2 separate regions of the Homo sapiens genome follow, and region 1 is linked to region 2. Evidence: fine-mapped expression QTL. A gene starts in region 2. The other region holds a variant in brackets. All regions are shown on one strand. Distances are between the middles of the regions. Region 1 overlaps FRRS1 (ferric chelate reductase 1). Region 2 holds the start of FRRS1 (ferric chelate reductase 1).

Evidence for each region. PIP is the estimated chance that this variant, and not a neighbour inherited with it, causes the effect.
Region 1: its variant is fine-mapped to the expression of FRRS1 in monocytes after R848 (Quach 2016, PIP 0.95).

What each region holds. Positions count from the first base shown.
Region 1 is chr1:99,737,355-99,742,596 of GRCh38, reverse strand. FRRS1 (ferric chelate reductase 1) reads left to right here. Exons shown (of 17, transcript NM_001361041.2): 5 at 324-418; 6 at 1,657-1,804; 7 at 4,329-4,511. Among named protein-coding and RNA genes, the nearest start is that of FRRS1, 27 kb to the left of the region's middle. The variant TC/C (reference allele first, on the strand shown) is at 2,378.
Region 2 is chr1:99,764,609-99,769,850 of GRCh38, reverse strand. FRRS1 (ferric chelate reductase 1) reads left to right here and starts at 3,216. Exons shown (of 17, transcript NM_001361041.2): 1 at 3,216-3,244.

The DNA of each region.
Region 1 (5,242 bases), 27 kb after region 2:
CTATTAATGGAAGAGATATAAATTTATAATGTACATGAAACAATGAGCAAGCTCTATCTAGTGTTAACGTACCCAGTGTTCACAGCTCTCTTCAGTTCTTAGATTTCTGTGGACTCTCATTTATTCACAGAGCCAGCTGCTAATATGTTCTCAACCAATCAACATTTCATTTATGGAGTGCCTGAGTCCTTCTTCTAAATAAAATAGTCTTCACCAGAATGCTAATGTCATGCAATGATAAATTACTTCGCAAAATGATAGAAGTTCCAGCCATGCTGAGCTATTGAGTGACTGAATGGTAGCTCTTTTCCCTTTTATTTCAGGGATCAGCAGTGAGTCACAGAAGTGCATCTAAAAAAACAGAAATTAAAGTCTACTGGAATGCTCCAAGCAGTGCTCCAAATCACACACAGTTTCTGTGAGTATAAGAGTTTATAATTCTGGGCCAGGCATGGTGGCTCATGCCTATAATCCCAGCACTTTGGGATGCCAAGGTGGTGGATCACTTGAGCCCAGGATTTTGAGACTGGCCTGGGCAACATGGTGAAACCCCATCTCTAAAAAAAGGAAAAAAAAGTTTACAACTCTGTAACTACTAGTATAATTGAAACCATAATTAGTCTGTATCATTTTCTGTACCTATTGGACATTCACACATGTAGGAGAGCTTTGGTATAGTAATAACACAACCTTCCTGATGTAGGAGTTTGTTTTGCTTTTTACCAGTGTATACCTATCACCTAGCACAGGACCTGTCACAAAATACACATTTAATAGACATTTGTTAAGTGAATGAAGTCTTGTACTGCCTTAATCCTAATAAGAGCTATCAATTAATACTTGAGTCTTTATGTTATATAATACTACTTTTAGATTGGCTCCTGTATTAGCATGAGAATACAAATGAAAGTCTTGAAATTTGGATGACTCTTACTCTTTTGCAGTATTACAACTTGCAGATTAGACTCTCAGAAAGACTGCATGCCTCTCAAATTATGAAACTCAGTAGAATTAAAACAGAACTTCTTCCTTATCCTACATACAAGGGGAAATGGAATGTTATAATGCCATCTAATGATTCCTGAGGGGTGATATGGACATATATTTTAAGGGAAGGATTGCTATCCTGACATGACTGTTTTCTTCACTTTGTGCGTGGGTCCCCAACACACAGTAACACAACTCTGCACTGGTATGTTAGATGGAATGTGAAAAAGGGGGTGTGACCCCAGTGAAAGCTGATGGTTACTGATGCAGCCTCTATTATAGCTTGTTGCTGTTGTTGCTTGCTACACATGCCCTTTGGAAGAATTGAATACTGCACTCTGAAATGACTTGTAGTATGTTCTTCATATGCCAGGAAGTAGAAATCTGTGCAGTTTTGTCCCTGGGTCTGACATCATGGCTATTGTGAATATGCCCCCAAAACAGACAAATAAGGAAAGAGGGACAGAGGGAGAGAAAGCAATAAAAATTTGTCAAGTGATCGGGTGGGAGAGAGTGGTTAGAGATTTGCCTCAGGCAAAATTAATAGTCCTGTTAGGTAGTAAGTCATGTTTTTCTAGTTTAGTCTTTCTTTTTTTTTTCCTTTAACGTTTTGATCTGATTGTGACAGGACACAATTAGGGTTCTAATCTCACTGGTATTGCATTTCAGAGTCACAGTTGTTGAGAAGTATAAAATCTACTGGGTGAAGATTCCTGGTCCTATAATTTCACAACCAAATGCATTTCCTTTTACAACACCTAAAGCTACAGTAGTACCTTTGCCAACGTTACCTCCCGTTTCCCACTTAACCAAACCAGTAAGTAACAATTTTATTTTCTCTGTAGAGATGGGGTTTCACCATGTTGCCCAGGCCGGTCTCGAACTCCTGAGCTCAAGTGATCCTCCTGCCTTGGAGTCACAAAGTGCTTGGAATTACAGGTGTGAGCCACTGTGCCCAGCTTTAGTAACATTTTTATAGCTTCATTAAATGTAATCTAAATAATATGTGGCCAAATATAATGTCCATATATTATAAAATACAGAAGAGAAGGTAAACAAAATAAGACATTACATAGGAGTAAAGTGCTGTACTTAGTTTTCTCTATGTGAGCAAACAGGTAAATTTGTGATTGGAAATTGTGGTTCTGTGTATTTTGTGTGGCAAAGTGCATAGAGAAGTAGCTGTGCTGGGTAGTGGTAGCACGTTTTGGAGTCCTCTGTAGGAATCTGAAGGAAGCCTTCATTGCAACCTTATGACTTACAGGTTAGAATGAAGGGAATGCAAGACCCTGCATGTTCAAGGTTTGGTCATGACATTCACCTGTAGTCTTTACTGGTGGTGGATATGTTTTCATTTGAAAATAAATCTGATGAAGCAATAGTTTTTTTT[TC/C]TTTCTTTTAAACACAGCCAGATATCAAAAGAAGAGCTTAAGTTAAATTTAGACAAGATTTGGAGGAGATTCTTGAAATGGTGATAATAACTCTTAGATCTCATTTCATTAAGGTCAGAGAGTCCTAGGGAATTGTATATGCTGAACAACAGAAAATGTCTTGTAAATTCATCAGTTAGAATTTCATCTAGGCCCTCTGATTTAAAAGATTTATGATTGACAAGACGTATCTTGGAAAGTGTTATGCATATTAGAAACATAAGGAAGAAGGGTTTTACTGCAGGAAATTCTGATAAGTTAGACTTCTCAATTCAGAAGTGGATACAATAAAAAAAAAACGTGTTGAGAAAGGTTGTTTCAGTTGAAAGAACAAACGTGGGCCTAAATACTGACTTGCCTAATTTTCGTGTGTCTTTGGGCAAATTACTTAATTTTCAGTCTCAGTTTCCTCACCTATAGAAAGAGATGTAATAATATTTAGCTCTTAGTATCACTGTAAGAATTAAAATAATGAATGTAAGTTTTCTATAACTGTGTCTTGCATTTAATAGATATTCAGTAAACATTAGTTCCTTTTCTTTTTCCTTCTTTTTATTATCCTTCTGTACCTTTTTATTCACATAGAGAAGACAAAGTAATGCGCTTTGCTCCTTATTTTGTTTTCCTTCTCTTCAACGTCTTATAGCATATGGGCACTATATTTGATTACATTATTATGATTGTTGCACTTTCGTTTGACCATACAATTAGATCTGTTATTTGTACTAGCTCTCAGTTTAGGCTTAATCCTTATTTAATTAAAAGCTGCTTTAGGGAAATACACAGTCAGTTTGGACCTGAGCTTCCCAGTAGGAATCTGTTGACAATATTGTTGTCTTTCCGTATATTCAATCAAAGGCTCTTGTTGGAACTTTTATTGTGTCTTTGTGCCATGTTTATAATCTCTAATTATAGGGAGGTTCATTCAGAGTCAAAGGTTTATAGCATTTTTAGAGCTCGAAGATACCTCAGGGTCTATTTCTTACAGTTTTCTTGTTGTGTAGTTGAAGGTTCAGGGATCCTGAGAGAACAAGTCCTTTGGCAAACATGATGTAGGGAAGGGGAGAGCAGAGACCAAAGTCCAAGTTTCTTAATTCCCCAGTGGCTTGTTCTCTTCACCCTAGTATGATCTGTCTTTACATTTCCATGAACTCTAGTTACATAATGTTTAGCTCTCTTCTGAAATTTACTGTCACAGCATTCGAACAAAGTCTGCTCATTTATCAGATTATACAGCTGATTTTTTTTTCTAAGACTCTTCGTCTTATATTCCTTATCAAGAAGCTCGGGATTAAGTCATCCGATTGTTGCTTATTTCTCCCCCCAATAAATCACTATGGTTATTTGGAATGCTGGTAAATTGGGGCGACCATTTTTTTCTTATGTCATTTTAGTACGAAATTTGAATCAGAATTCTAGAAGCAGAATCCACAACCTAAATATAATAGCTTTCTAAGTATTTATTTGTTTGCTTTTTAAATCTTCATCTCTGAGAACTAGAGGATACCCTTTAGGCAGGAACGTTAGTGTCATTTAAGTCTTAGGGACTGAAATATTAACTCAAAAATTTCTCAAAACCTATCAGAAACTTTGCTCCAAAACTTACTTAATGTGAAATGTTTTGTGTATTACAGGAGCTTTAATACCCTTGCACAATTACAGCCCAACAAGTGTATGTTTTCCAAATTTTAATTAAAATTAATTAAGTTTAAAAGTTCATAACCTAACTACTGCTCCGATCATTTTTAATTTGGGATGTGTCTTTTGTTTCCTTATTTGAATGCTTATTATGGAAAGGTATTCTCATTAATTTGGGAGCTACCCGTACTTGAAGGTAGTTATTCTTCTGTCATTGCCAATGAACTGCTTGTTTGATAATTAAGATTTTTTTTTCCTCTGTCATTTTTCTAGTTCAGTGCCTCAGATTGTGGGAACAAGAAGTTCTGTATTAGGAGTCCTTTGAACTGTGACCCAGAGAAGGAGGCTTCCTGTGTCTTCTTGTCCTTCACAAGAGATGACCAATCGGTGATGGTTGAAATGAGCGGCCCCAGTAAAGGCTATTTATCCTTTGCATTGTCTCATGATCAGTGGATGGTTGGTACCTCTCACTTACATAAGTGGTAACAAAAGGAGAATCACGGCTAGGCATGGTGGCTCATGCCTGTAATCCCAGCACTTTGGGAGGCCGAGGCAGGTGGATCACGAGGTCGGGAGTTCAAGACCAGCCTGGCCGAGATGGTGAAACCCCACCTCTACTAAAAATACAAAAATTAGCCTAGCGTCGTGGCGGGCGCTTGTAATCCCGGCTGCACGGGAGGCTGAGGCAGGAGAATCACTTGAACCTGGGAGGTGGAGGTTGCAGTGAGCCAAGATTGTGCCACTGCACTCCAGCCTGGGCGACAGAGTGAGACTCCATCTAAAAAAACCCCCCCAAAACAAACAAACAAAAAACCAAAAGGAGAATCATTGAAACTGTTTGTTCCAGGGTCAAATGATCATCCAGGAGAAGCTAACTTAGAACAGATTCTAAGTTAAACGGCTTTGAGTACTGTATGATTTTAACAGTTGGGCAATTACTTCCAAGAACAGGCTGTCCTAAGGAAAGTTTGGAAGATCATTTTATTTCCAGTGTATTTGCCATTTTATGTCTGTCTGTCTCTTTGCGATAAAGCAGGAAATACAGTTAAGAAAAGTTGTTCTGCATAAAATGTCATGTTTTTTGTAATGCTTTTCAAACCAGAATTGTTTATTCAAGTGGCCAGAACTAAAACATGTGTTCCTGCTCTTTTGTCCTATTTTAGTAGTCATCAGTGCCTTTCCTAAAA
Region 2 (5,242 bases):
TTCATAATGGATAGGATAATACATGTGCCTTGGTTAAAATGAGTGTTCAATAAATGATAATTATTGTTCTTGCTATACTTTATTTGCCTTCTTCATTCTCATTTTCTCATGAATATACAGTGGAGTTTTCCAGTGGCTACATGAGGTGTTACATGATATCACAAAAGATTGAATGCAAGCAGATATGAGAATCCTACTGTCTTCTATTAAGCCAGACATTAAAGAGATTTGCAACAATTTAAACAATGATACTTTTTCTTTTTTTTAGACTAGTCAAATGCTATACTTTTTCATTAAATTTTTTATTGTTGAAAAACAATAATATAAGCAACAGAAAAGATACTGTGTTAACATGTAACTATTATTGTCACTTAAAAACAAATTTATGAATATTTAACTTTTTCTGTTAATTTTTAATACAAAAATATTAATAGATATCACCCACATAAAGAAGCATCTCTGATGTACATAATAATCTTTCAAAGTTGTGAAGGGACCTTGAAATAAAAAAAGTTTGAGAACTGCTGATATAGAGGCATGAGAATGGTAACCAGTAGGGTAGCTTTAACTTCTTAGGATCTAAGCTCCATTAAACTAATTTTAATAAAATTGGTCTCCTTTGTGACAACTGATGAGTTGATGAAGAGTCTGGTAGAGGTGATCTGGAAGGGAATGATAAGGTGGAATTATAGCTGGGGACATGGAGAGAAATGATAGTCTCAGAAGGGGTGGTGTTTTATTTATTTATTATTTATTGAGATGGAGTCTTGCTCTATTGGCCAGGTTGGAGTGCAGTGGTGTGATCTCTGCTCACTGCAACCTCTGCCACCCAGGTTCAAGCATTCTCCTGCCTCAGCCTCCTGAGTAGCTGGGATTACAGGCGTGTGCCACCACATCTGGCGAATTTTTGTGTTTTTAGTAGAGACAGGGTTTCATCATCTTGGCCAGGCTGGTCTTGAACTCCTGATATCGTGATCCACCCCCCTCGGCCTCCCAAAGTGTTGGGATTACAGATGTGAGCCACTGAGCCTAGTGAAAGGGTTGTTTTAGACAAAGCTAGCCTCTCTCTCCATTCAGTTCTTCCCACTGTGTCGTACCACTTCCTAAGAGTGCTTTAGAATGTAGGGTTCTGATAATATAGTCGAAGAGTTTTTGTTTTATAGACATATCATACTTTTGGCATGCAATGGGGACAGTTCCTGGAAAGGGTCTGTTATCTGCAGAAGGCTATTTCACCACTTGAGGCTTTGAAGAACTGAAGATCAGCTGACTTAGTTTAAAACTATTCATGTTCCCAGCAGCTTTAGGATAGCAAACCAACTCTGGGTCATCTTTATTTAAAGCCTCTCTTTAATAACCTGTAGAGAGGGGCTTTTGTTAATTGTGACTAGTTCTTTAAGAGAAAGCGTAACGTGATGGTGTTCCTTTCTCTGTTCTCTCTTTAAAAATGGTTTAAAGAATTTACTGGGGTTGATTGATAACCAGCATTCACAGGTCAAGGCATGGGTCATAATCTATTTTCCAGTCTGCATATGTTGAAAGCGCCTTTGCAAAAAGGCTTTTTGCAAAGCCTTTTATAACTGAGGAAATTATGGCAGTGAATGAGAACAGACCTAACTGGCTCTGTCTTGCTTCTAATCTTTAAGCTGTCCTTGTTCATTCCTGGGCATATGCCAAACTAACTTTGGGAAGGAATCCAGTTCATGTTTTGACTCTGAAACAAAATTGGTAGTAGCCCTTTCCTGAATAGACCCCCTTCTTGCCTGGGGACCAGTCTGCCTTTGCAGGACCAACAAATTAGCTACAAGATTAGAAATTATGGTTTAGGGGTCATGCAGCCTCTGGCTCCAAGAGTCTGAACCTCCCCAAATTGCTCCTGGGGATAACATCACTATTGTAAAACCTAAGATCAGTGCTTGAGATATTTTGCAGAGCCTGGACTCGGTGGATCAGCTGATGCCACACAGACCGGTAATTGGGCTCACCCAGTTCTGCCATCCCACCCAGGAACAGAAGACAGCAAGAAAACCTCACGTCGACCCCCCATGATTCCATCTCCAATCTGACCAATTAGCACTCCCACTTCCCAAGCCCCTACCCGCCAAATTATCTTTAAAAATTCTGATCTCCGAATCCTGGGGAGACTGTGTTGAGTAATAATAGAACTCCGGGCTGGGCGCGGTGGCTTATGCCTGTAATCTCAGCACTTTGGGAGGCTGAGGCAGGTGGAATCACTTGAGGTCAGGAGTTCCAAACTAGCCTGGCCAACATGGTGAAACCCTGTCTCTGCTAAAATACAAAAATTAGCCGGGCGTGGTGGCGGGCGCCTGTAGTCCCAGCTACTGGGGAGGCTGAGGCAGGAGAATCGCTTGAACCTAGGACGGGGAGGCTGCAGTGAGCCGAGATCATGCCACCGCACTCCAGCCTGGGCCACAGACAGAGACTCCGTCTCAAAACAAAACAAAACAAAACAAACAAACAAACAAAACAAAAAACTCCGGTCTCCTGCACAGCCAGCTCTGCGTGAATTACTCTTTCTCCATTGCGATTCCCCTGTCTTGATAAATCGGCTCTGTCTAGACAGCGGGCAAGGTGAACCCACTGGGCAATTACAATGTCACTCAAGGTCTGAAATGGAATGTTTAATATTTTCAATTACATTAAAGAGAAGAAAAAAAGTAAAAAACAGGAAAACAAAAAACAAAATAAAAACAAAGATTGTTAAAAATTCAATTACATTGTCTTTTCCTAGCCCTAAAATTTTTCTTTTGCAAAAGAGTCTTGTGAAACAGATTAAAGGCTTAAAAAGAAACAAAACTCCTAAATTTCAGGGGTAATTTGCAAAATAAAAGATTTCTTTTGCATTATATCATTCACACTGCAGAAAGGTTTCGGTTCTATGCAATCTGATCTTTTTCCACTTTTTAAAAGTTAATTTGCTTTTACTTAGCACTATTATAGAACAGGTATTTTCAAATAGTTTTGCAATTAAACACAAAAACTATAATTTTTGTGGCGAAGTAGGTACTAGTTGGCAAACACTGTTCCTTAGTGTAAAACAGAATTCTAAGTTTTCAGAAATGGAGTCCTAAAACTAGCACTGGTCTTGCAAATCAAGTTCTGCAGCTTAGTTTGGGAAAGGTTCCCTTTTGGCTCAAGGCTTAACTGGCTCCACCCAGCTGCTGAAATGTGATACAAGTTGTAACAAAACCGGAAGTTGGTTAGGCTGCCTTCGCTTCTCAAGGTAAGTGTCACGTCTTTTTCCTTAATGTCAAAGCTCTTTGTAAAGCGTTAAAAATCAAATCCAGCTTAGCGACAGACTGGAGAGCGAGTGCCTGTGCTGACCAGGGCAGTCGGCCAGGCAGAACGGGTGCTGTATTCCGAAACTATGTTCTGGAGCTTGAATTGAGCTAATGAGTGTTCACTAACGAGTTAGGTTAATATGTCCTGTGACTTTGACTAACAAGCTTTAATTCCAAGATATGGGTGGTTATAAGTAGAGACGTGTTTGGGATCCTGAAAATCATTGACTTTATTCTTGCAGGAGTTTTTTTTTTGTTTTTAATTTTAAATTTAAAACTGTAGGAACTCTTTTTTTATATTTAAAGCTAGTGGCATGGTTACCTATATCAGGGTCACTTAGAACCTTATTTGGTTTTTAAAGTGGCTTTTTATCTAGAACTTTTAGTCCCCTTACCCTCCCACTCCCTAGCCCTGGTGTGTCGTTAAAATTTCAGAAAGACTCCAGGGTGGCAAGGTGTTATCACTGCACTTATTTTTGTGTGTGCTTGTCATACTGCCCTAAAGGGTAAAGGGGATTTTTCAAATTGTAAATGTGTTATTAGGAATATTTCTTAACATAGCTAAACTTTTCAGTTCAGATATTTTCATTTGCTTCTGTATTTTTATTTTTTATTTTTATTTATTTATTTATTCATTTATTTTTGAGACGGAGTCTCGCTCTGTCCGCCAGGCTGGAGTGCAGTGGCGCGATCTCGGCTCACTGCAAGCTCCGCCTCCCGGGTTCAAGCGATTCTTCTGCTTCAGCCTCCTGAGTATACTGCTGGGATTACAGGCGCCCGCCACCACGCCCGGCTAATTTTTTGTATTTTTAGTAGAGACGGGGTTTCACTGTGTTGGCAAGGATGGTCTCTATCTCCTGACCTCGTGATATGCCCGCCTCCGCCTCCCAAAGTGCTGGGATTACAGGCTTGAGCCACCGCGTCTGGCCTATTTATTTATTATTTTCGAGACGGAGTGTTGCTCTTGTGGCCCAGGCTGGAGTGCAACGGCGGGATTTCGGCTCACTGCAACCTCTGCCTCCCGGGTTCAAGCAATTCTCCTGCCTCAGCCTCCTGAGTAGCTGGGATTACAGGCAGGCACCACCACACCCGGCTAATTTTGTATTTTTAGTAGAAACGGGGTTTCTCCATGTTGGTCAGTCTGGTTTCGAACTCCCAGCGTCAGGTCATCTGCCTGCCTCGGCCTCCCAAAGTGCTGGGATTACAGGCGTGAGCCACCGCGCCCAGCCACTTCTGTATTTTTAAAAAAGTGGTAAGATTTGAGTATTATACTGGGATAGAACTGAAGTTGGGGGCTTAATTTGATCTATCAGCTTATTGAAAACAAAGACCTTTTAAGAGATGGTTTTGTTAGGTTGGAGAAGTGAGTTTTAGTTCGTCATTTAGTTAGCCAGTATGTTGATTTTTTTGGTGAAGTGTACTCTCTGTTTCACACCTGTCAGCTTTTTTAATATTGGATTTTCTCAAAATTCACATAACAATCACACTGTATGAGTACTGTTTTGAAGGTTGTCTGCTAGTCAGAATGAATGGAGATCAATGTGTAGGACACCTTTACTGATATCCAGAGGTTTACCAAAAGACAAGTCACCAAATGTGGCAGAAAAACATGATAAAATTTATTAGGAAAAACTAAAGCTTATGGAGTGAACAGTTATTTCAGGTTGGTGGAATTAGGCAAGAATCCAAGAAAGGAAGACAGTTTTATATGGGAGACTTTGTTAATGGTGGTCATTGTGCTAGATATTTTGGAGATAGTATTTTATTTAATCCTCATGCAAGCCATTGATATTGGTGGCATTGTCTCTAACAAGTGAGAAAACTAAGACTCAGTAAGGTTAAATAATTTGTCCAGGGTCACTATGGTGGTGCCTGCTGGATTACATTAATGGACAGATTCAAACCTAGGTCTGTGATATTTCAAAGTCCATACACTTCAT